Homo sapiens: one gene and its partners. The protein of the gene in region 1 interacts with the protein of each later gene in a pairwise test. Each region holds a gene or a part of one and is shown on either strand. Other genes may lie near its edges. The genes, in order: ECT2, KLHL20, CDH1 and CTNNA1.

Region 1 (7,972 bases):
CAATGAATTTCTCAGCTATTTTTCAGGCACAAATCATAATTTACATCACATCTATTTGCATTTAGTGCTCGACTCTCCACCTATCTTGTCTTCCAACCCCCAATCCAACACTCTTGACTCATCCTCTGTGGATGTCTCTAAACCTCTCCGGTATAATTGGGCTGGTCCCTTGTCAGTATTTTCATAATTCTTTAAAAACACCTCTCCCCTAAAAGGTTTGACAAAACAATTATGCATGGGTGAGTGCCAATATAACTCTGGACTATGAAAGAAAATCCTTTTTTAAGTTTTCCAGGACTTAAGAAGAGTTTAAAAGCTAGACAGGGAATAAAAGGTTTAACAAGTTTTCATCAGGGTGGGTTGGGGGCTCACATCTGAAATCCCAGCACTTTGGGAGGCCAAGGCAGGAGGATCACTTGAGGGCAGGACTTCAACACCAGACTGGGCAACATAGCAAGACCCCATCTCTACAAAAAATTTAAAAATTAGCCAGGTGTGGGTGGCAGGTGCCTATAGTAGCTACTCAAGAGGCTGAGGTGGGCGAATCACTTGAATCCAGGAGTTTGAGGTTGTAGTGAGCTGTGATCCCACCACTGCACTCCAGTCAGTCTAGGTGACAGAGCAAGACCCTGTCTCTCTAAAAAAATTTTTTTAGAGATTTTTTTATCAATTTTCAATAAGTCAACTTTACTGAGAGTAAATTTCTAAATATTAGGCAAATATACAGAGGACCCACCTTTAACGAGAGCTACATGTCAGACTTTCCCCTTTCCTACTTCTTCAGATTAATAAAATATACAAATACCTTCCTCCAGAGTCTTAGCAAAGTAACAGTTTAAACTGTATGCTGTTATGTGACACTTCAAAATCAGGCAACTCAGCTTCCTGTCTCAGCCCTGCACATAGTCAGTTAAACCTCAGTTTCCACATTGGTGGAACACACATAGTACTACAACTCAAATCTAGTTAAGATGAAAACTGAATAGATGTCTTAAAGTGAACAACAAACAACTATTCTCATGTAATATTCACAATATGGATATTTCTTATGGCTTTACCATACATCCATGTCAATCATTATTCTAAGGCTCTCCAAAGGAGCGGTCCAATAGTTGTAACAGCCTTAATTTAGAATCAATGATAAATTCTATCCAGCCCTATTATTTTAAGTCTTCTACACTCAACCATTTCCAATGAAAAGGCATTAAAGTGGCTTTCATTCAAAGTCCCCTTAAAAGAATGTTTAAAAAAAAAAAAAAGTCAGGAGATGAGCTAACCTGCTTTAAGGACTGGAAGAGGAAAATCAAAAATACCATTTGAAAGGCCGGACGCGGTGGCTCACACTTGTAATCCTAGCACTTTGGGAGGCCAAGGCGGGCGGATCACGAGGTCAGGAGTTCGAGACCAGCCTGGCCAACACAATGAAACCCCGTCTCTACTAAAAATACAAAAATTAGCTGGGCTTGGTGGCAGGCACCTGTAATCCCAGCTACTCAGGAGGCTGAGGCAGGAGAATCGCTTGAACCCGGGAGGCAGAGGTTGCAGTGAGCCGAGATCGTGCCACTGCACTCCAGTCTAGGTAACAAGAGGTAGACTCCGTCTAAAAAAAAAAAAAAAACTTCTTGAAAATATTTACATTTTTCTCCTATGCCTCCCTCTTTAAGAGGGAGCACAGCAAATGATCAAAAGCAGATGATTAATAAAAGGGAGGGAGCATAGCAGATGATCGAAAGCAGATGATTAATAATTAAAATTGCCCCTGATGATACTGTATATGATCAATTTATTGCCAAAACAGCTTCAAAATGTATAGAGAAAAAGAGATGCACTACGGTAACTTGATGACATAACTAACATCCAACAGTCAGATTAGAAATGGAAATATATTAATCACTTTTTTTCAAATTACTGTATTCCAGAAGCCTTTAAAATAAGCACAATAGGATCAGTGTTCATAAACCTACACAGCTTCTCACCCAAGAACAGACCCAAGGAGCTTCTAACTAAACACACTATAACACATGCCCCCTTTTATCCCAGAGATAAAATTTGCCATGTAAACAAACATTCAAGTTTCCTTTTACTTAAATACTTTTTAGGCAATCATCTTCCAAGGTGAAGGACTAAAATGCAATCCAAGATATAATGGTGGTGTTATTAACAATAACATTACTATTAACAACTGACATTTACTTAACGCTTAATACGTGGCAGACATTGTCCTAAACCTTTTAATCTCTGCAGTAATCCTAAGAGGCAGGTACTATTATTATTTTCAATGTATGGATGAAGAAACGTAGGAACAGAGAGGTTAAGCAACTTCCCCTAAGTCAAACTGTTAGTAAGGGGTAAAAGAGGTATTCAAAGCCCGGCTAAATCCAGAGGCTGCGCCTTTAACCACTAAGCCGGACACATCTGTGCCGGGTGGCTGGGGAGGACGAGGGGCGGATGGCCTGGATTTATCTTGCAAAAACGAAAAATTAAACTTCCCGCAAAGAAGCCAGGATGAATCCTAGAATAAAACCACGGCGCACTCTGAGATAAGCCCCCAAAGGCTGCAAGTGCCGGCCCCCAAAGCCACAGGGCTGCGCGGCTTGCCAAAATCCCTTTCCCAACTCCCTCCCTTCACCCACACTCTTCTGTCCAAAAGAGCCAACAGGTGAGGGCGAAGATGCCCAGCAATACTGGGGGCTTCGGTCTCCCACTCCGCGTCAGGGCCCGGCTGCTGGGGGTGGGGTGCGGCGAGGGAGTTCCCGGATCCGGGAAGCCTGAGCTGGGGCGCTCCGGAATTCGCGGTCACTAGGGGCGGGGACGTCGACCGCAGGCAAAAGAGCCCTTGGCTCTGGAGCCGCTCGCCCACTTGCACCTCTCTCACTCACACAGAGTCCTTACCACTCTCAAAAAAGCCCTAGGAGTTCCACCTCTTCAAACGCCGACTCCTCTCACAAATACCGCCATTCCTCGCCGGCGGCCGCCACAACCGATTCAAAAACTAAGCTGCTCTCTCTAAGAGCCATGCCGATTGGCGCGTGATGTCAACCTCTTTCCCATAGGCAGGAGTCTCCAGAGGGGCGGTGATTGGTCGACGCTCTCCAAGTCCCGGCAGGCGCCGCTTGATTGGTTGTGCGTGTGTTTCAAATAAGCCCAACGACTCGGGCGTCGGGACGCCAGGAGTTTGCAGAGAAGTGCCCGGATGTGGCCAGGAGGTGGCGGTGGTGGCTCCTGAGGTCTTAAAGGAGTAGCAGGTGTTTCTGTGACTACCGCATATTTACTCAGTAAACATCCTACTTCCTGAGGAAAGTTTGGGTGGATTCTCCTCGGCCCCACCCAGCTTTTTTTTTTTTTTAAACGATACCAAATCTTTTAAGCTTAAATCAGTGCCGCCAGAGATAAATGTTTCCCTGCTGCTTGCTGTGAGCTGTAGGATTTTCCTATCGGGATGCTTTCTGCTTTAGGAATGTATTTAAATTTGAGTTAAGGGATTTTGACTTTGATGGTTGTATTGGCGTGTGGCAGGGCCAAGGACCGGTCCTAGAACTCGGACTCCCCAGGTGGACTTCAAATCAGCAGCCGCTTATTTAAATGCTATTATTTAAAGCACTGCGCTCCCATCTAGGGAGTATCGCGGGTTAGAATCAATTCTTAGAAATTAGAAAAATTCTCGGATTTTTTTAAAGATAAGCTTGAATTTGATAAAAATATGCCACGAGATTCTAGAATTTTTGGAGCCAAATTGCTTCGTCTTTGCCCCCCTCCGCCCACTAAGAACTTGTACTTTCCCCTAAAGTCTAGTCAAGAATGTATCAAGTTTTTCCTGTGATTAGCGTTGCTATTATGAAAATAATTTCTTTATTTTCTAAATATGATACCATATAACACAATCTCTTAAGAAAAATACACCCCCACCAGGTGGGTTTTCCATAGTTCCCACCTGAAGGCTAATATAAATAGAAGAAGAAAGGGGAATCAGATGCCAGAACCTAAATACCAATAAGAAGAGGCAAACGTGTACTTTGGGATGGAACACTTGTGAGCATCTCAAGCAGGTTGTGGGGACTTAACAATTTTTTCTAATTTTGTCAGGCAATCTTAGAATGCCTGAAAAGTTTATAATGCTGTCCACAAAATGAATGAAGCAATCTGGTAATTATTGGTTTCCCTGCTTGTCAGTATTTAAGTCTGACCTTCATTAAAATGCTGTGATAACTGTTACGGCAGAAAAAAAGAAAAACAGTAATTGAAATTTCCATTTGGAATGTGCTTGCGTATTTGGAAGTCGGGTGTGCCCAGCATTCCAAAAACGTTCATCACTGAAAACATATTAAGCTATTGTGGGAAGCAGCCCTACTTCCTTTGTGCACCGCTTTCTGCTCAACAGACTTTCCAAAGCTAATGATTAACTGTGTATGGTATCATTGCCATGAATTTTAAGCTTCCCTAACAAAAGCTGTACTTGATTTCTTTTAAGGGATGTGTGGCAGTTAGATTAACAAATAAACGGGTAATACAACCTTTTTCACTCTCTTAGGTCTTCATTTACTCAGCAAATATTTACTAATTTTAAGACAGCCATTGTGCTTGTTGGGGTTATAAAGATGAATAAGGCATAGAAAACTGCCTGTCTGGACCACACAATCTGGTGAGGGAAATTAGCAGATAAACAGATAATTACAGTATAAGGGAGAGAAGAAAGAGAATGAACATACTGATACTTTACTATGCACTTTATACCTTATTTAATCCTTAAAACAACCCACAAGTAGGTATCATAGTCCCATGATACCATGAAACTGTAGGAAAGGTTTAAGTAACTTACCCAGTGTCTCCTAATAAATATTTTAGCCCGCATTAGAACCCAGAAATAATAGATGAGTGTAAATAAAGTCTAGTATAGATCTGTCTGCAGGCTCAAAGAAAGCAATGTGGAGAGGAGTATTTCAGATAATCGTGTGCATAGGTGATCATATGCCACTTAATTGCACCTAGCAGAGGGCTGGTGTCTGGTAAAGTAAAACATGATCCCTCATCTTCAGGTATTTTCAAAAAGCTAGTACTGCAAAGGCAAATGTTACACATTGCTCTCTAATAAACACAGGAATCTTCACATGTAGGTACCAAATAAATATTTCGAGAGTGAATGAGCTAGATCCAAGTTCATTCATAATGTTTGAGAGACTGGATGTCCTGATTAACCTAATCATAGTTTATTCATTTAATAACTATTAAGCACCCATTAGGTACTATGCTAGCACTGAGAATATAGGTGTGACAAGACAAATATGGGCCTTGTTCTCATGGCACTTCTAGCAGATAGCTGTATTTGCGGTGAAAAATTTATTGCATGCATAGGTTTTCACAGAATTCAAATACCTACAAAACAATGATACAAGTAACTTAGTCTTACTGAGTCAGAAGCTGTTTCAAGTGCTATAGTGTTTCAAGATCAGCATTATGAAAAATTTTTAAATACTATATACGGCATAGGCAATTGAACTGAATGGCATATTAACCTTGAACTTTTTTAAAAACATAAATTCTTAATATTAGCTTGTTTACGTGCACTTTAGGCTCTCATAAAAGCTCAATATATATAGGAGACAGTAAACAGTTTGGTGTGGCTGGATCATAATATACATGAAGAGGACAGTGGAAGACAACTGACATACGCTAGGTTAGGCTAGGTGTGGGGGCTCATGCCTATAATTCCAGCACTTTGGGAGACTAAGGCAGGAGGATCCCTTGAAGCCGGGAGTTCAAGACCAGCCTAGGTAGTGACTGCACTCCATCCTGGGCGATAGAGCAAGACCGCCCCTCCCCCCCACCATCCAGCCCCCATCTCAAAAAAAAATAAATGCTGGCCAGGTGCAGTGGCTCATGCCTGTAATCCCAGGCATGAGATTACATGCCTTTGGAAGGCCCAGGCGGGCGGATCACGAGGTCAGGAGATCGAGACCATCCTGGCTAACATGGTGAAATCCTGTCTCTACTAAAAATACAAAAAAATTAGCCGGGCGTGGTGGCACGCGCCTGTAGTCCCAGCTACTCGGGAGGCCGAGGCAGGAGAATGGCGTGAACCCGGGAGGCGGAGCTTGCAGTGAGCAGAGATTGCGCCACTGCACTCCAGCTTGGGCGACAGAGCGAGACTTCATCTCAAAAAATAAAAAATAAAAAGTAAAATAAATGCCATGTTAGAAGGAGCTTGGGAAGAGCTCCACTGTCATGACAGAGTTTAAACTTTATGCTGAAAGCACTGAAGATCAATTAAAAACCTTGAAGCAAGGAAATTATATGGTCTGTGTTATTTTTTAAAAGTAGCGATCAGGACCAGACACAGTGGCTGACATCTGTAATCCCAGCACTTTGGGAGCCCAAGACGGGCGGATCACCTGAGGTCAGGAGTTCGAGACCACCCTGGCCAATATGGTGAAACCCCGTCTCTAAGAAAACTACAAAAGTTAGCCGGGCGTGGTGGTGCGCACCTGTAGGCCCAGCTACTCCAGAGGCTGAGGCAGGAGAATCACTTCAACCCAGGAGGCGGAGCTTGCAGTGAGCCGAGATCACGCGACTGCACTCCAGCCTGGGCAACAGAGCGAGACTCCGTCTCAAAAAAAAAAAAAAAAAAAAGTAGCAATCTGGGAACACAACACAACTTCACTTGAAATAGAAGAATGAAATAGAAGAAAGACCAGTGAGAATATGGTTGAATTCAAACTCATAGGAAATGATAGTCTGAACTAAGATAGAAAAGATGGGTTGGAGAGATAAGGAATAGGAAAAATTACTGGGACTTTGATTAAATATAGAGGATGAGAGTGGAATCAAAATATGTAAAAATTACTACATCCATATAAATTTCTGATAAATAGCAGTATCATTAAATAAATAGAACAGTTTCCAAATTCAGAAGACTAGTTCTCTGTCTTTCTTCCTTTGATGAACCAGCCAATTAGATTCACAGTTCCTTGAATTTTTGAATCCCAAAACCTCAATTCAACACTTATTTTGATGGACAATATCCTAAATGTTTTACACTCAATTGCTTTAGCTCTCAAATGTTAACTTCAAACATTCCATTCTGATTACGAAATTTTCTTCCCATCTCTTAATCCCTTTCACACATGAATCAAGGATATTTAGCCTTCAGTTCCCCCTAATGATAGCACCCCTTTCTAACCCATGGTCATTAATTCAGCTGCTGAAAGACCACCACTTTCACTGTCTTACTTCTCTTCCTGCCTCTCTGATGTTTCCTTCTCGGTTTCCTTTGCTTAGATATTATTGTTCCCCAAAGTATTATTCTCAGGCAACCCCCTTTCCCTAGGTGAACTCATTCATTCCCAGGGATTTAAGTTATATGCATATGCTTCCACGTCTCTCTTTCTTGCCAGACCTTGTTGAAACCCACTCTATAATGCCAGTTGTTTACCAATTTTTTCTGCTCCTGTGACCCACAATCCTATCAAACTCTTCATGTGCTAAAGTGAATTCTTCTTTTCCCCAGCTCTCCATCCTTTATCTCCTCTGCCTCTTGTATTTCTCTCCTGATTAGTAGAATCCCCATTCACTCTGACTCCCAAGTTGGATCTCTCAAAGTCATCTTCCTGTTCCCTTCCTCCTCTTGGTCTCCCTGCACCACCAACCCCAACACCATTCTCCCAATTTGACCTGAAAAATATTTCTAGAATCTGAATCTTCCCCCTTCAGTCCACTGCCCGAGTTTAGGCCTTCATTATCTCTCATCCAAACTATGACAAGGACAGCCTTCTAGTTGGTCTTTTGGGAACTAATCACTCTCTCTACTTCCAGTCATCAGTCACAGAATTATCTTCATTTAGAAAACTAAATATGACTATGTATCCCCCTCCTTAAAAACAAAACTAAACCAAAAGACATGGTTTCTTCACTGCTCACAGAATAAAGTCCAGTATAAGATGGACTTCCCAAGATGACTGTAACCTAATTTTCTATCACC
Region 2 (7,032 bases), on another chromosome or scaffold:
AAATGCATTTCATATTTAAGGGAATGAGCATAACAAAGTGAACTTATATCATCACTTTTCTAGCTGAAATTAACGGGGATGGTCTAAGAAATTTTCAGAATTACCTTTAAGTACTTATAAAATACCTAAAATACTTTTATTATGTTTAAAAAGTCATTCCAGATAATATATAAGATACAAATTTGTATCTTTTCTTTGCGACAGGGTCTTGCTCTGTCACCCAGGCTGGAATACAGCGGTTTGATCACGGCTTACTACAGCCTCGACCTCCTAGGCTCAACTGATCCTCCCACCTCAGCCCCCTAAGTAGCTGGGACTACAGGTGTGAGTCACCATGCCTGGCTTGAAAATTTGTATCTTATATTCATATTTCATATGTAGAAATTCAGGTGCTAAATTACTAGGTAAAAGTCACAAATTACTGACAAATAATTAGAAATAAGATATTTGGATTTTTGTATGATCACATTATATAAACATGCAGAGAAAAGACAATCTATGCCTCTTAATTAAAATAATTATTCTTTTAACAAATATTTACTAATTGCTTTTAATGTACACAAAGCATTTTGCTATAGACTGTGGAAAATTCTAAGTAATATAAAGAAGCAATCTCTAGAGGAGGAGATACATGAATAACTAGTAAGAGGGCAACCAGGACAAAAGATGTGGTTCAAACATAAGAATTTTCGGAGGAGGCTGAGCCTAGTGGCTCATGCCTGTAATCCCAGTACTTTGGGAGGTTGAGGCGGGGGGATCCCTTAAGCCCAGGAGTTTGCCATGCCTAGGCAACATAGTGAGGCCCCATCTCTAAAAAAAAAAAAAAAAATCCCCAAAACATATATATCATGTATGTGTATGTGTATATATATATAAAAGAATTTTTGGAGGTGATACATATGTTTAGAACCTTGATTGCGGTGATATCATGGGTATATACATATGCCCAAACTCATCAAAATGTATACATAAAATATGTACCTCAATTATACCTCAATAAAGCTTAAAAGTCATTCAGAAAGGCAAAATCTATGAAGTATATGTTTAACATCATTCAGAAAGATTCTGGATCTCACAGGTATAGCCTATCAGGTTACTACAAAGGTTGTTGTTGTAAAGTAGGAATATTACACTGGGTTTTCCCAGAGCTTAAGTGAAATATCTCACATCCATGCTCCAGATCGTTATATTTCTGTTTCTGATTCTAAACTCATTAAGCAGTCCTCTGATGGAAAATTCTTCCAAAAGTACCATGCTACTTAAAAGGGGGATGACTCAAGCATTCTGATCACTGAGTTTTAGGTCAGCCTCATGTGAGTCTCTCTCAGATGCTAATTATCTACAACTACTGAGAGAGTCTAATATCTAGCCTGCAAAGGACAGCATCCCTATCAGTCTGCTACTTCCAAAGCTGTAGCACTGACGGGAACTACAGTATAATAAAACACTAAAGTGTAAAAGGAGTCTCCTGAGAAGGACAGAAAAATCTATAAGGACATTCTAGGGAGAAGAAATTGCATGTGCATTGCAAAGATATAGCACAAAAATAAAAAACATGGTTCTTCTTTTCTCCAACAACAACCAATTTTTCCAAAACACTTATACATCTGGTAAAAACATCACTGTTTACGCTTGGCAATTTTAAAGACTAAAACATAAAGCTGAGCAGTTAAAGAATAATTTTTACCATCCATATAAACAATCAAGAATGCTTTTAACCACAGAGCTAAAATGGTGCCTTGTACACAGTAGATGCTGAAAGAATAAATCACATGATTAACAGTGGTACAATCAAGCTTCTTTTTTAAAAAAGTAACAATTAAAGACAGAAGACCAAAAATTCCTGGAATACTGACACTGCATGCTGAAAGTAAAGTGTTATTGTCACAACCTTAGTTACATACATAAAGATGCTACTGTTGAACTGAGATATAAACAATTTTTTATTTCACCTAAGTACAATGTGGGTAAACTAAGCTAATGTCTCCGTTTTTCTTTTAAACATACCATAGTGCCAGGCGCGGTGGCTCACACCTGTAATCCCAGCACTTTGGGAGGCAGAGGTGGCTGGATCACCTGAGGTCAGAAGTTTGAGACCAGCCTGGCCAACATGGTGAGGCTCCATCTCTACTAAAAATACAAAAATTAGCTGGATGTGGTGGCGCATGCCTGTAATCCCAGCTACTTGGGAGGCTGAGGCAGGAGAATTGCTTGAACCTGGGAGGCAGAGGTTGCGGTGAACCAAGATTGTGCCACTGCACTACTCCAGCCTGGGAAACAAAAGCGAAACTCTATGTCAAAAAAAAAAAAAAAATTACCATAGCAAAAAAAAATAATGCTCTTATTACTGCATCAGTATAGTAGAATCTTTTTTTCTTTTTTTTAGAAATAAGGTATTGCTCTGTCACTGAGGATGAAGTGCAGTGGTATGATCACAGCTCACTGCAGCCTCAAACTCCTGGTTGAAGCGATCCTCTCACCTCAGCCTCCTGAGGAGGCTCTCAGGTGCATGCTACCACGCCTGGCTTAATTTTAATTTTTTGGTAGAGACAAAGACTCTCTCTGTTTCCCAGGCTGGTCTAGAACTCCTGGCCTCAAGTGATCCTCCTGCCTCAGCCTCCCAAAGTGCTGGGATCACAAGTGTAGGCCACTGTGCCCCCAGCCATTGGTGTCCATCCATATAATTTTCACTTCAGGAAATATCATTCATCTTTTGCCTTTTTTCCTCAACCATTTAAGAATGTAAAAGCTAGCTGGGCATGGTGGCTCACAGCTGTAATCCCAGCACTTTGGCAGGTTGAGGCAGGAGGATCGTTTGAGCTCAGGAGTTTGAGACCAGCTTGGGCAACAAAATGAGATTCCATCTCTACGAAAAAATTTAAAAATTATCCAGGTGTGGTGACATGTGTGACAAGTGCTTCTTGAAAAGCTTGCAGAACCACAAGCCAAGATAAACTTCTTTTCTTTATAAATTACCAAGTCTCAGGTACTTCTTTATTGCAATGCAAAATGGACTAATACGCTATCTAAATGAACATTTCACCTTTCCTACTTCAAAAATTTTGTTTTACTTTGAAAATTAACAACTTGACCTTAAAAAAGATTCAGTTGCACTGACCCTCATTTATAGTCCTAAATATACTTGAATAGAGACAGCTGGAGATTTGAGTGTATAAACCCTCAAAACAGAAATAACATCTCAAAGTGTCACTTCTACTTAGTAGAAGGGGTCCCAATAGGCACTATATTCCACACCTGATTCCACACCAGAAGGCCAAGCTATTAACCTCTTTATTTGAAACTTGGTTGTGAATGTTTTAGTCCCAAGACATCTCATCACGGCTTATTGGATAAAATGAGCATAAGCCTTGGGTGCCTTGGTCCAGTGATCGAGACCAAGATGGAGCAGGAAGGGTAAATCCTCATGCAAGCATGCTAGTTTCCCTTTATATCAGGATAGCAAAAGCCTTCCTAGAATACCCCTCAACAACTACTGCTGACATCTCATTGGTAGCACTGTGTCACACAGCCCTTCCCATATGCAGAGACAACTAAGAACTCAGAGTATTTAATTTTCTAGTGTCTATAGTAGACGGAAGAAAAGAAGAGATGTGCAAGCTAACCTACAGTGCATGCCACACTAGGGAATAGTCAAATCAAGCAAGTATGTTTTACACTATTTTTAAGCATACACTTTAGACTGAGTAGAACAAATTGAAAATTTCAAAGATACGAGATTGGAAATTTTGTCTTCTGAAATTGAACTGAAGGAGTAGCTCAGCTATCCTTCAATGTGAGTAAAAAACTATCAATAAAAACTCTAGATACTGTTAAATAAAATAAGACCCAAAGCATGTAAAGCTTCTTACTCATTTTAGAGACTTTATGGGGCCTTCCTGCTAGGCCCCATCGTAAACACCCCTGGTACTCACTACAGTTCTGTCCTCAGCATTCTCCTTTTCTGTTCTACCATCACTTATGCCTACAGCTTGAAGAACCTTCTTAGTATTGATGACTCACATTTTTTTTTTTAAATTTCTAGCCCAAATCTCTCTTCTGCCCCAGAGTCATATTCCAATCACATGCTGGATATCTCCACCTGGCTGTTTCCTAAACACAATAATCTTAAAGTATATGAAACAGAATCTATTCTTGGCTTACTGAAACCTGTTCCTCTTCCTGTATTTTTCTTTTTAATCTTATCATGGCGGCATCTGGTTTCCTAAGTTTGGAGTCATTTATAACACTATCTCTTCCTCACTCCATGTTCACCAAATCCTTTTGATTTTACTATTATACAAGCTCTCAATTCCATCTACTTCTCTCAACCCTCACTGCCATAGATATACTTCAGGTTCTCATCATCTTTCATCTAAACTACCACAACTACTTTAAATTCATTTCCTTGCCATAATTTCTTCCCTCTTTCCAATCCATCCCCTATGTGCCTAGAAATCAGTTCAAAGAACAAACGATGTATATAATAATGTCCATTGGCTCTTAAATACCTAAAGGATAAAGTTTGAATTCTTTCCCACTGTTGTAGCCTCAATTTCCATGTTTTCTACTTCCCCTTCTTCCTCAAAATACCCTATACTCCACATATACTCACTGTTCCATGCATGTCAGACAATTCTGGGTCTTGGTACTCTCTCTTATCTTTTTTTTTTTTGCACAAGCTGTTCCTTCCTTTTATGGTGTCCTTAATTAACTCCCTTCTTTAGAAGTAAATTCTTATTCTTCCTAGAAGATCTAGCTCAAATGTTACCATCTCTGTGATGCTTCCTCATCTCCACAGAGCAGTTCCCTCCTCTTAAGTTTACATCTCTATTAAAATTCTGTTAACATTGTTTGTTAATTAATTAATTAATTATATTTTAGAGATGAAGTCTCGCCCTGTCATCCGGGCTGGAGTGCAGTGGCACAGTCACAGCTCACTGCAGCCTTGAACACCTAGGCTCAAGTGATCTTCCTTCCTCCTCCATCTCCCAAAGTGCTGGGATTACAGGTATGAGTCACTGTACCACGCCAATACTGTATCATTATATCTGTTCTCATCACTTGATCTGTATCACACAATATACAGGAATAGAGTGGTACTATATAAAGGTTTGATATATGAATAAACCAATTTCTACAATCAAGCTCAGTTTTCTATTTATATATTTAAGGAAAGTTGGAAGAATTAATTACAAAATATTTGGTATCTCTTAATAAAATGAATGATTGAAAATTAATATCTTGGGAAACAAACATATTGTTGGTAAAGACTATGCATTTGTGTAACTCTAAGGGCAAAAATTTGTCAATGTCCACCAAAATTAAAAAAATGTACATAATCTTTAGGCAATTCTAAATCTAAGAATTTATTCTTTTTTTTTTTTGAGACGGATTCTTATGCTTTCATCAGGCTGGAGTGCAGTGGCACGATTTTGGCTCACTGCAACCTCCACCTGCTGGGTTCAAGTGATTCTCCTGCCTCAGCCTCCTGACTGGCACTGTAGCTGGGACTACAGGCACGCACCACCATGCCCAGCTAATTTTTGTATTTTTAGTAGAGAAGGGGTTTCACCATCTTGGCCAGGATGGTCTCGATCTCTTGACCTTGTGATCTGCCCGCCTCAGCCTCCCAAAGTGCTGGGATTACAGGTGTGAGCCACTGCGCCCAGCCAGAACTTATTCTATACTTACACATCTGGGCAAAAACCACCTACAAGGATATTCATTGCAGACAGAACTGGTTGTAACAGCAAAACAGTTGAAATAAATCTCTCTCAAATGGGACTGGTTAACTAAGGTGCATATAGACAATGGAATACTACATAACTATTAAAAGGAATAAGGTAAGTCTATATGCATTTGTTACAATTTACAAAATAATTTTTCTTTTTTTTTTTGAGACGGAGTCCCGCTGTTTAGCCCAGGCCGGATTGCAGTGGCGCAATCTCGGCTCACTGCAAGCTCCGCCTCCCAGGTTCACGCCATTCTCCTGCCTCAGCCTCCCGAGTAGCTGGGACTACAGGTGCCCGCCACCGCACCCGGCTAATTTTTTGTATTTTTTAGTAGAGACGGGGTTTCACCGTGTTAGCCAAGATGGTCTCGATCTCCTGACCTTGTGATCCGCCTGCCTCGGCCTCCCAAAGTGCTGGGATTACAGGCGTGAGCCACCGCACCCAGCCACAAAATAATTTTTCAAGTGAATAAAGATACAGAAGAATGTGCATGATATACTGACAGTGTCCTTTCAAATGCATTTTCTTATTTTTATTTATTTATTTAAAGAGATGGGGTCTCTCTCTGTTACACGGGCAGGAGTGCAGTGGCATGATCACCACAGCCTCGAACTCCTGGGCTCAAGCAATCCTCCTGCTTCAGCCTCCTAAGTAGCTGGGTAGCTGGGAATACAAGTGTGAACCACTATGCCCTACAACATTTGTGTCTTTTTTTTTTTTTTTTGAGACACTGTCTTGCTCTGTTGCCCAGGTTGGGGTTCAATGGTATGATCACGGCTTAACTGCAATCTCTGCCTCCCAGACTCAAGTGATCCTCTCACCTCAGCCTCCTGAGTAGCTAGAACTTCAGGCATCTGCCACAACACTTGGCTAAATTTTTCTTGTTTCCTTTTTGTAGAGATGGGGTTTTGTCATGTTGCCCAGGCTGGTCTTGAACTCTTGGGCTCAAGGGATCAGCCCACCTCAGCCTCCCAAAGTGCTGGGATTACAGGTGTGAGCCACTGTGCCTAGCCATCTTTTCTTTTTAAAAGCTACTAATGTTAGCCAGGTGTGGTGGCTCACGCCTGTAATCCCAACACTTTGGGAGGCCTAGGCAGGGGGACTGCTTGAGCCCAGGAGTTTGAGACCAACCTGGGCAACATGGCAAAACCCTGTATCTACAAAATAGAAATTAAAAAAGTGAAAAGAGAAGACATCTTATATACATTTGTGTATGAACTACAATGCCTCTAAAAGAATGCATAAGAAACTGCTTACAGTGGTTGCCTTTGGGAACTGGGGTCAGCAATGGGAGAGTTAA
Region 3 (7,011 bases), on another chromosome or scaffold:
GGAGATGGGGTTTCACCATGTTGCCCAGACTGGTCTCAAACTCCTGGGCTCAAGTAATCTTCTCACCTCCCAACTAGCCTCCCAAAGTGCTGCGATTACAGTTGTGAGCCACCAGGCCTGCTTAGGTATCCCTGTTTGATACAAGAGAAAACAGAGGGCAGGCACAGTGGCTCACACCTGTAATCCCAGCACTTTGGGAGGCTGAGGTAGGTGGATCACTTGAGGTCAGGAGTTTGAGACCAGCCTGGCCAACATGGCGAAATCCCGTCTCTACTAAAATACAAAAATTAGCCAGACATGGTGACGTGTGTCTGTAATCACAGCTACTCAGGAGGCTGAGGCACAAGAATCTCTTGAACCTGGGAGGCAGAGAGTGCAGTGAGCCGAGATCGCGCCATTGCACTCCAGCCGGGGCAACAGAGCAAGACCTTGTCACTAAATAAATAAATAGGAAACAGAGAAGCAATTCAGTGTGTTGCGAAAGTCACACAGCACCTGTCTTCCACAAGGAGCCCCTCTGTGTTCCCGCCTCACCCTGGACACCTGATCTACTGTCTTTGGAGCTTGGAGAAGGACTTGCCGAGAAGTCTGAAGAATGCATCAGGCCTGACCTGACTTTGCTGCCCCTAATTGTTTTCTAAAATCCTTTTTATTGAATTATCAGAGTGTAATGGAAGAGTCGATGAGAGTCGCTGCAGAGTTACGAGGCCAAGGCTTGCTGGGTAGAAGAAAGTAAAGCCCTAAAGGCTCCCAGGGCCCAGCGATGGTATAAAATATGTATTTTTACATAACTGAGAGGAAAAAAATAAGCAGACAGTACAGCCCCATGGGGGAAACGCCTCTTTCTGTATTTCCATTATCTTGTTCAAGGCACGATCCTAGTGGGAAAGGAAATACCGGAGCCTTCTCCCTCTGAGCCTCCTGGTGGGTTAAGAGCAGAGGGAGCCAAAATACGACATCCAAAAGACCTGATTGGAAACTCATTAAAATTGAGGGGACAGGTTGTTGGGGGGGGCGGTGCTGGGCTGCCCAGAAATCGTCTGCATTTGAGAAATTACTTGATGGACTCAGAGGCACCTTTAGCTCTGGGTGAAATATTCCAAACATGGCTTTCCCCAGGAGGAAGCGAAATAGGGGCTGGGCCTTTTGAAAGAGTAACCCCTACTCCAAATATTTATTGAGCAGTTGCTATGATGAGCCAAGAACTCTGCTTAGCGATTGTTTTTGTATTAGCTCATGCCAATTCACTTATACAAAGGAGAACACTGACTTCCCCAAGGTCACAGGGCTAGTGAGTGGCTGACTCCACTTAATGCTGTGTAGTTCTAACCATGCTTGAAGGATAAAGGGAAAGGAGGTGCCCTTGTCGGGGTAGACAAGCCACCCAGACGTGGCTGGCCACAGGGAGTCAGACAGGGAAGTTGTCTAACCTAACATTTGCCTGTCTATTCTGTTTTTGTCTTTTGATGGAGGACGGCGGGTGCTGGAGGGCCACTGGCCCAGGACCTGAGACCTTTGGCCCCTATCTATTCTATTTTTGATCCTAAAATTATTTCACTGGGGACAGAATTCTCTGGAGAAGGTGATGGTGGCCATGGTGTGGCTGTGGCATTAAAAGCCCCACTCTGGGGGTCAGAAGATCCTGGGTTTTGGTCTTTGGCTTTGACATTGACCTGCCTATGTGACATTGAACAAGTTATTTGCAAATCATAGGTTTGGGTGAACTCTAAAGGTCTCTTCCAGGTCAACATCAAAAAACAGACTGAAAACTGCAGCTCCAGCTGGAAGACTGGGACCACATGAGATGAAGCTGATTGTTAGAAGAAAGGCCCTGGAATCAGAGAGGTTGGTTCCAGTCCTGCGCCACCTCTCATTGGCCTCAATCTCTCTAAGCTTCAGTTGCCCATCTATCATATGGGAATAATAATACAGCTCTTGGGTTGTTTTGAAATGAGCTTAAATGAGCTGGTCAGTGGCTGGGCACGGTGGCTCATGCCTGTAATCCCAGCACTTTGGGAGGCTGAGGCAGGTGGATCATCTGAGGACAGGAGTTCAAGACCAGCCTGGCCAACATGATGAAACCCTGTCTCTACTAAAAATACAAAAATTAGCCAGTCGTGGTGGCGCATGCCTGTAATCCCAGCTACTCAGGAGGCTGATAGAGGAGAACCGCTTGAACCCAAGAGGCGAAGGTTGCAGTGAGCCAAGAACACACCATTGCACTCCAGCCTGGGCGACAGAGCAGGACTCCGTCTCAAAAAAAAAAGAGCTGGTCAGTGTCAAATGCTTAGCACAGAGACTGGCACAGTAATCTTCAATGTCCAGCACCTATTGTTACTATTTTTTTTTTTTTTTTTTTTTTGAGACAGAGTCTTGCTCTGTCGCCCAGGCTGGAGTACAGTGGCGCGATCTCGGCTCACTGCAAGCTCCACCTCCCAGGTTCATGCCATTCTCCTGCCTCAGCCTCCCGAGTAGCTGGGACTACAGGCGCCCACCACCACGCCTGGCTAATTTTTTGTATTTTTAGTAGAGACGGGGTTTCACTGCGTTAGCCAGGATGGTCTCAATCTCCTGACCTCGTGATCTGCCCGCCTCGGCCTCCCAAAGTGCTGGGATTACAGGCGTGAGCCACCATGCCTGGCCCTATTGTTACTATTTTTACCCCTCACTTCTGTACAGAGCATTTATGGCTCAAGAAACATTTGTCATTTTAATTGTATGGGAGTCCCACAACAGCATAGGGAGACATTTCTGATCATTATTCCCATTAGGAGGGTGGAGAAACTGAGGCTTTGGGAGGTGGTCCTGACCTAGGGAATCAATTTGCTGACTCACTAACCCATGAAGCTCTACAGTTAAAAAAGACTAGATTAAAAAATGAGAACTCAGTAAAGGGGCTGAGGCAGGAGGATCGCCTGAGTTCAGAAATTTGAGATCAGCCTCGGCAACATAGTGAGATCCCCTCTCTAGAAAAATTTTTTAAAAAATTAGGCCGCTCGAGGCAGAGTGCAGTGGCTCACGCCTGTAATCCAACACTTCAGGAGGCTGAAGAGGGTGGATCACCTGAGGTCAGGAGTTCCAGACCAGCCTGGCCAACATGGTGAAACCCCGTCTGTACTAAAAATACAAAATTAGCCGGTGTGGTGGCACACGCCTGTAGTCCCAGCTACTCAATAGGCTGAGACAGGAGAGTCTCTTGAACCCGGCAGGCGGAGGTTGCAGTGAGCCGAGATCGTGCCACTGCACTCCAGCCTGGGCAAGACAGAGCGAGACTCCGTCTCAAAAAATACAAACAAAACAAACAAACAAAAAATTAGGCTGCTAGCTCAGTGGCTCATGGCTCACACCTGAAATCCTAGCACTTTGGGAGGCCAAGGCAGGAGGATCGCTTCAGCCCAGGAGTTCGAGACCAGGCTGGGCAATACAGGGAGACACAGCGCCCCCACTGCCCCTGTCCGCCCCGACTTGTCTCTCTACAAAAAGGCAAAAGAAAAAAAAATTAGCCTGGCGTGGTGGTGTGCACCTGTACTCCCAGCTACTAGAGAGGCTGGGGCCAGAGGACCGCTTGAGCCCAGGAGTTCGAGGCTGCAGTGAGCTGTGATCGCACCACTGCACTCCAGCTTGGGTGAAAGAGTGAGACCCCATCTCCAAAACGAACAAACAAAAAATCCCAAAAAACAAAAGAACTCAGCCAAGTGTAAAAGCCCTTTCTGATCCCAGGTCTTAGTGAGCCACCGGCGGGGCTGGGATTCGAACCCAGTGGAATCAGAACCGTGCAGGTCCCATAACCCACCTAGACCCTAGCAACTCCAGGCTAGAGGGTCACCGCGTCTATGCGAGGCCGGGTGGGCGGGCCGTCAGCTCCGCCCTGGGGAGGGGTCCGCGCTGCTGATTGGCTGTGGCCGGCAGGTGAACCCTCAGCCAATCAGCGGTACGGGGGGCGGTGCCTCCGGGGCTCACCTGGCTGCAGCCACGCACCCCCTCTCAGTGGCGTCGGAACTGCAAAGCACCTGTGAGCTTGCGGAAGTCAGTTCAGACTCCAGCCCGCTCCAGCCCGGCCCGACCCGACCGCACCCGGCGCCTGCCCTCGCTCGGCGTCCCCGGCCAGCCATGGGCCCTTGGAGCCGCAGCCTCTCGGCGCTGCTGCTGCTGCTGCAGGTACCCCGGATCCCCTGACTTGCGAGGGACGCATTCGGGCCGCAAGCTCCGCGCCCCAGCCCTGCGCCCCTTCCTCTCCCGTCGTCACCGCTTCCCTTCTTCCAAGAAAGTTCGGGTCCTGAGGAGCGGAGCGGCCTGGAAGCCTCGCGCGCTCCGGACCCCCCAGTGATGGGAGTGGGGGGTGGGTGGTGAGGGGCGAGCGCGGCTTTCCTGCCCCCTCCAGCGCAGACCGAGGCGGGGGCGTCTGGCCGCGGAGTCCGCGGGGTGGGCTCGCGCGGGCGGTGGGGGCGTGAAGCGGGGTGTAGGGGGTGGGGTGTGGAGAAGGGGTGCCCTGGTGCAAGTCGAGGGGGAGCCAGGAGTCGTGGGGACGATCTTCGAGGGAAGGAGAGGGGCATCCGTAGAAATAAAGGCACCTGCCATGCCAAGAAAGGTCGTAAATAGGAGTGAGGGTCCCGGGGATAAGAAAGTGAGGTCGGAGGAGGTGGGAGCGCCCCTCGCTCTGAGGAGTGGTGCATTCCCGGTCTAAGGAAAGTGGGGTACTGGAGAATAAAGACATCTCCAATAAAATGAGAAAGGAGACTGAAAGGGAACGGTGGGCTAGGTCTTGAGGGGGTGACTCGGCGGCCCCCTCCCGGGAGTTCCTGGGGGCTCGGCGGCCGTAGGTTTCGGGGTGGGGGAGGGTGACGTCGCTGCCCGCCCGTCCCGGGGCTGCGGGCTGGGGTCCTCCCCCAATCCCGACGCCGGGAGCGAGGGAGGGGCGGCGCTGTTGGTTTCGGTGAGCAGGAGGGAACCCTCCGAGTCACCCGGTTCCATCTACCTTTCCCCCACCCCAGGTCTCCTCTTGGCTCTGCCAGGAGCCGGAGCCCTGCCACCCTGGCTTTGACGCCGAGAGCTACACGTTCACGGTGCCCCGGCGCCACCTGGAGAGAGGCCGCGTCCTGGGCAGAGGTGAGGGCGCGCTGCCGGTGTCCCTGGGCGGAGTAGGGAGGGGTTGGAAAGGGGCCGAGAAATTGCACTCCCACACCCCTGGGTTGCAATGGGCAAGCTCCCTCCTTGGCTCAAACGACACCCCTTGGAATTTACGCAGATTTGGGGATCCAAACGTTTACGACTGAACACTGTGGTGGAGGGGGTAACCCTGCCTGGTTGTTGACTATGTTATAAAGAAGAGGAGGTTGAGGGCACTTACTAGAAGCCTTCGTATTTCTCTTATTGCCCTCAGCACTGTAGAGACAGTCTCTCATTTCAGACTGCAAAAACCTGGTGGGTGGGAAGGCCTGGCAGGAGTATTCCCGTTTTACAGTTGAGCAAACCGAGGCTAAGAGAGTGACGTCCACTTGCTCAGGGTCAGCAGAGCAGATATCTGAACTGGGATCTGACTCCCAGGCCCCATTAAGCACCATCTCTGGGATGACTGAAGAGCAGCCCTCTCTTGGTTACTGGGCTGTGGCTTTTGTTTACAGATATAAAAGCTTTTTTTTTTTTTTTTTTTTTTTTTTTTAAAGACAGGGTCTTGCTCTGTTGCCCAAGCTGGAGTGCAGTGGCACAATCATAGCTTACTGCAGCCTCCATCCTCTGGGCTCAAGTGATCCTTCCCATCTCAGCCTCCCTAGTAGCTGGTTATCATGGGCATGTGCCACCACACCTGGATAATTTTAACTTTTTTTTAGGCTGGGCGCAGTGGCTAACGCCTGTAATCCCAGCACTTTGGGAGGCCGAGGTGGGCGGATCACAAGGTCAGGAGTTCGAGACCAGCCTGGCCAACATGGTGAAACCCCATCTCTACTAAATAAAAATATAAAAATTAGCCGGGCATGGTGGCGTGTGCCTGTAATCCTAGCTACTCAGGAGGCTGAGGCAGGAGAATTGCTTAAACCCAGGAGGCAGAGGTTGCAGTGAGCTGAGATAGTGCCACCGCACTCCAACCTGGGTGACAGAGCAAGACTCCGTCTCAAAAAATAAATAAAAAATAAATTTTTTTTTAGAGACAGGAGTCTCTCCATGTTGCCCATGCTGGTGTTGAACTCTTGGGCTCAAAGGATCCTTCTGTCTCAGCCTCTCAAAGTGCTGGGATTGCAGGCCTGAGAGACTGTGCCTGGACCAAAACATCTTGATACAGGTACTGTTTCCCCCAAGGAATAATGATTTTTTTTTTTTTTTTTTTTTTTGAGATGGAGTTTTACTCTTGTTGCCCAGGCTGGAGTGTAATGGCGTGATCTCGGCTCACTGCCACCTCTGGCTCCCAGGTTCAAGTGATTCTCCTGCCTCAGCCTCCTGAGTAGCTGGGATTACAGGTGCCACCACCATGCCCAGCTAATTTTTTGTAGTTTTAGCAGAGAAGGGGTTTCACCATGTTGGCCAGGCTGGTCTGGATCTCCTGACCTCAGGTGACCCACCTGCCTCAATCTCCCAAAGTGCTGGGATTACAGGCATGAGCCAGCACGCCTGGCCAGGAATAATGATCTTTTTTTAAAAAAAGCATGGTAGTTCTGACTCAGGATGAAAATGCATACACCCAATGTACTTCTAGGCCTTATCGTTGTGACAATCTAGAGTTTGCTTTGTTCCACTTGACTGTTGTCCAGGGAGCAAGGGAAGGGGCTAGTTTCTCTTCTGGTTTCACTGAATCCCAAGTGCTTCCTTTATATCAAACCACTTTCTCCTCTCTCATGATTTTACTTGATTGGGTATCACAATAAGAGGCATTTTTTTTTTAAGAGAAATCACCCACAATTCCCCTGAGGGAACACCTCCACTGTGTCATTCTTCCAGTCTTTGACCACATGAATCTTTAGCAATCACGCTGTTGTCTTTACATTTTTTTTTTGAACTTTGGAAGTCATTCGAAGTTTT
Region 4 (4,142 bases), on another chromosome or scaffold:
ATCAAGAGAAGCTCTTTCTCAGTTACAGTTTTTCTCTGTAGTTAACAAGCCTCCCCACCATTTTCCCTGAAATAGCCAAACTCTCAGCCTCATCTAGGCCACAGGATGTGTGAGACACAAGCCTCCTTACACAAGCCAAAGATTGTAAAGGCATCCTTGACTCCCACACAATCGGTAATAGGGCCTATTGCTTCCATTGGCCAAATGTATCTTGACACAAACCAGTCTTGTCCTTTCTGCAGATCTCCATAGCCACTTGGACTACTGTGGCCGCTCCCGATTTCCTGTTCTTTCCTCTCTCCACTTCCTTCTGCATCCAGCTGTCAATACTGTCATCTGAAAATGCAGATCACATGGCTCTGCCCTGCTTCCATGACTACTTAGAATACAGCTCATCTCCAGTATGGTCTGCGGGGTCTCAGTTCATACCACTCTCTGTGGTGTACTTTGCTCCAGCCTCACTGGAAGAAAATGTTTGCTTGCTATAAACACTTGAGAGGTGCTCTGTGTTTCTCCCTTTGGGTAAAGCTTTCTAGGCTGGTCCTAATCTGGGAGCCTCTAAAACTCTGAGATGTGGAGCGAGACAGGAACTGGGCAGGGGCCACCCTTTTCTCTTTGACCATCCCCAACTGCTTTTTTTCTTGCTTTACTTTACTCACTTGTCTTCCACCTCAGCCTGCAGTGAGTGGCTTTTGTCATCAGGCATTAATAACGCAAAGTGCCTCAGAGCAGAAGAGTTAACTATTTGTTTACTTAGCTAAAAACATCTGGACTTTTCTCCATAGCCAGGCTCCTGCTTGCTGAGCCGGCTTGTTCTCACCTCGAGGGGCATGGGCCTCCACCCTGCCGTTTGGGGTGAGGGGATCCTTGGCCAGGGTGGTTTCCCCGCCGTCATAGGAGGGAAGTCAGTGGGAGGCTCAGAAGGCCTTGGCTATACAACCAGTGCCATGCGGCGCAGTCAGGGTCCCATGGACGACTTCCATCAGCTCACCCGCCTCCATCCCCAAGCAGAGTGTAGGCAAGGGCTGTGACTGCCTCAGGTAATTGGGTGATTTTGCTCCAGCAAGAGGAGAGGAAGCATGTGAGTGCCACACTGAACCTTTCAGAAACAGCCGTGGGGTCGGGGGTGCTTGGGCCAGGCCAGGATACTTGGTGTTAAGCCTGCTCTCTCTTCAGTGCCCCGACTCGGCTTGCAAGCAGGACCTGCTGGCCTACCTGCAACGCATCGCCCTCTACTGCCACCAGCTGAACATCTGCAGCAAGGTCAAGGCCGAGGTGCAGAATCTCGGCGGGGAGCTTGTTGTCTCTGGGGTAAGCATTAGCTGAACAAAAAGAGGGCCAGTGGGAACGTGCTGACCCTTGTCAGAAATGAAAGTCACCTCCTATCCGCATAAACACCTGCCCTGGGAAAGTGTGCTGTGCAGAAACTCCAAGTCCTGTCCCAGTCTCTGGAGACCAAGGTCTGTCCATCATCTGTTCCCTGTAGAACTGTGACACCTGCGGGGCACTGCAAGGGCTGAAAGGCTGGCCTCCTCCCCTTTGCTGGCCACTCACTGGGTAGGAATTTTTAAAAATCTTCCTTGGGACCGGGCGTGGTGGCAGGTACCTGTAAGTCCCAGCTACTTGGGAGGCTGAGACACAATAATTACTTGAGCCTGGGAGATGGAGGTTGCAGTGAGCCGAGATGGCACCACTGCACTCCCGTCTGGGCAACAGAACAAGACTGTCTCAAAACAAAACGAAACAACAAAACAAAACAAAACTTCCTTTTCTTCCCCCAGAGAGGAATTAAGAGTAGACATAGATAGGGTGTTTTCTCAAAAGCCCTTCACTCCTCAGAGTGCTTGGGTAGCGTCTCTTTCTTTTTACCACATCACAGTTCTGAGGCCTTTCTCACCTAGGGCAGGGGAAAGAAGAGGTTTGCTGAGTGGATTGGGGTCCACCGAGCCTCCATGGCTTCTCTTAATCCCACTGAATTTCCTTTAAAAGAAACACTTCTTATATTGAACATATTGAGACCATTTGCTCATCTGCTTTGCCATAAACATCCCTGTCTCGATTCCTGCTTCTCCTCCCCCACGTGCTTACAGCTCTGGGATCACTTACAGTGACTTCCAGTTGGTTTGAGTGAATAAACACTTGCTGAGGGGTGGGGGTGAGCAAGGCGAGGTTGCCTCATGTCTTCTCCAAAGGGTCTGAGGGCAGGCGCTTCCAGGCTATTTAGATAAGAGCAGCCGTTGAGGGTGTTCTTCAGGAACAGGCTGCTGCCCAATCCTCTGCGACCTGCCCAGGCCCTGGTCTTGCAGAGGAGTAGGGGGCTCCCCTTCAAGCACAGCCCACCTGTGTCCACGAGGCTGGAGGTCAGGCCGGTGCTTCTTACCACCCCTGTCTGCCTCGTAGGTGGACAGCGCCATGTCCCTGATCCAGGCAGCCAAGAACTTGATGAATGCTGTGGTGCAGACAGTGAAGGCATCCTACGTCGCCTCTACCAAATACCAAAAGTCACAGGGTATGGCTTCCCTCAACCTTCCTGCTGTGTCATGGAAGATGAAGGCACCAGAGAAAAAGCCATTGGTGAAGAGAGAGAAACAGGATGAGACACAGACCAAGATTAAACGGGCATCTCAGAAGAAGCACGTGAACCCGGTGCAGGCCCTCAGCGAGTTCAAAGCTATGGACAGCATCTAAGTCTGCCCAGGCCGGCCGCCCCCACCCCTCGGGGCTCCTGAATATCAGTCACTGTTCGTCACTCAAATGAATTTGCTAAATACAACACTGATACTAGATTCCACAGGGAAATGGGCAGACTGAACCAGTCCAGGTGGTGAATTTTCCAAGAACATAGTTTAAGTTGATTAAAAATGCTTTTAGAATGCAGGAGCCTACTTCTAGCTGTATTTTTTGTATGCTTAAATAAAAATAAAAATTCATAACCAAAGAGAATCCCACATTAGCTTGTTAGTAATGCTCTGACCAAGCCGAGATGCCCATTCTCTTAGTGATGGCGGCGTTAGGGTTTGAGAGAAGGGAATTTGGCTCAACTTCAGTTGAGAGGGTGCAGTCCAGACAGCTTGACTGCTTTTAAATGACCAAAGATGACCTGTGGTAAGCAACCTGGGCATCTTAGGAAGCAGTCCCTGGAGAAGGCATGTTCCCAGAAAGGTCTCTGGAGGGACAAACTCACTCAGTAAAACATAATGTATCATGAAGAAAACTGATTCTCTATGACATGAAATGAAAATTTTAATGCATTGTTATAATTACTAATGTACGCTGCTGCAGGACATTAATAAAGTTGCTTTTTTAGGCTACAGTGTCTCGATGCCATAATCAGAACACACTTTTTTTCCTCTTTCTCCCAGCTTCAAATGCAAATTCATCATTGGGCTCACTTCTAATAACTGCAGTGTTTCCCGCCTTGGGCTTGCAGCAGAAAAACCTGACAACATAGTGTTTGCTAAGGCAGTAATTTAGACTTTACCTTATTTGTGATTACTGTAGTGATTGATTGATTGATTACTATTAACTACAAGGTATAATTTACTATCACCTTATTTAAATTTTATGAATTAATTTGAATGTTTTTTACACTAACTAACTTTTCCCAATAAAGTCCACTATGAAACCACGACATCCAAGAGCCCAAAGTCGTCTTCTCTGCCTTCAAGTCATAGATTTGCCCGCAGTATCTGTGGTGCTCTGGGCCCTCCCGGTGTCCGTCTCTTCCAGGATGGGGATGCCCGGGAGGGAAACTGTCTGTGGCTCTAGGCTGCACGGCTCGTGCCAACCCATCAGGGAGGGCCATGCCCGTTGTCCTATTGAGTGCCCCACCCTGCACCCCCACCTTGGGAATTCACATGTCCATTCCTTGAGGTTCATGTCAACCTCGGAGGCATCCCTGTCTTCATTATAGCTGACCCCTCTCCTGCGTCCTTCTGTCAGCATATCCCTTCTGCATCCTTCCCGTCACACATACATACCAAGCTATGATGATTGATTGATAGTGGCCTTCGAGATGAAAACCATCCTTAACCCCATGATCCTTCCCAGCTGGCATCCCCACCCTAAGCAAGGTTCCCTAAAGAGAAGCTTGTTGACATTTTCTCCCCTTCCTCACTTACAGTCAGCTGTCACCTTGCTCC

What was found.
Region 2: the proteins of ECT2 (region 1) and KLHL20 interact in a two-hybrid assay, tested with the Homo sapiens proteins (one study listed by BioGRID).
Region 3: the proteins of ECT2 (region 1) and CDH1 interact in binary tests that used the Homo sapiens proteins (3 or more experiments, as listed by UniProt).
Region 4: the proteins of ECT2 (region 1) and CTNNA1 interact in binary tests that used the Homo sapiens proteins (3 or more experiments, as listed by UniProt).

Annotation. Positions count from the first base shown.
Region 1 is NC_000003.12:172,745,778-172,753,749, reverse strand, and holds the start of ECT2 (protein ECT2), read right to left. Parts: upstream 3,025-7,972; 5' UTR 2,893-3,024; intron 2,749-2,892; exon of another isoform or gene 2,634-2,748; intron 1,601-2,633; exon of another isoform or gene 1,278-1,600; intron 1-1,277. UniProt on the Homo sapiens protein: Guanine nucleotide exchange factor (GEF) that catalyzes the exchange of GDP for GTP. Promotes guanine nucleotide exchange on the Rho family members of small GTPases, like RHOA, RHOC, RAC1 and CDC42.
Region 2 is NC_000001.11:173,717,970-173,725,001, reverse strand, and holds part of KLHL20 (kelch-like protein 20), read right to left. Parts: intron 1-7,032. UniProt on the Homo sapiens protein: Substrate-specific adapter of a BCR (BTB-CUL3-RBX1) E3 ubiquitin-protein ligase complex involved in interferon response and anterograde Golgi to endosome transport.
Region 3 is NC_000016.10:68,733,306-68,740,316, forward strand, and holds the start of CDH1 (cadherin-1 isoform 1 preproprotein), read left to right. Parts: upstream 1-3,986; 5' UTR 3,987-4,110; coding exon 4,111-4,158; intron 4,159-4,991; coding exon 4,992-5,106; intron 5,107-7,011.
Region 4 is NC_000005.10:138,931,402-138,935,543, forward strand, and holds the end of CTNNA1 (catenin alpha-1), read left to right. Parts: intron 1-1,176; coding exon 1,177-1,311; intron 1,312-1,486; coding exon of another isoform or gene 1,487-1,557; intron 1,558-2,400; coding exon 2,401-2,688; 3' UTR 2,689-3,633; downstream 3,634-4,142. UniProt on the Homo sapiens protein: Associates with the cytoplasmic domain of a variety of cadherins. The association of catenins to cadherins produces a complex which is linked to the actin filament network, and which seems to be of primary importance for cadherins cell-adhesion properties.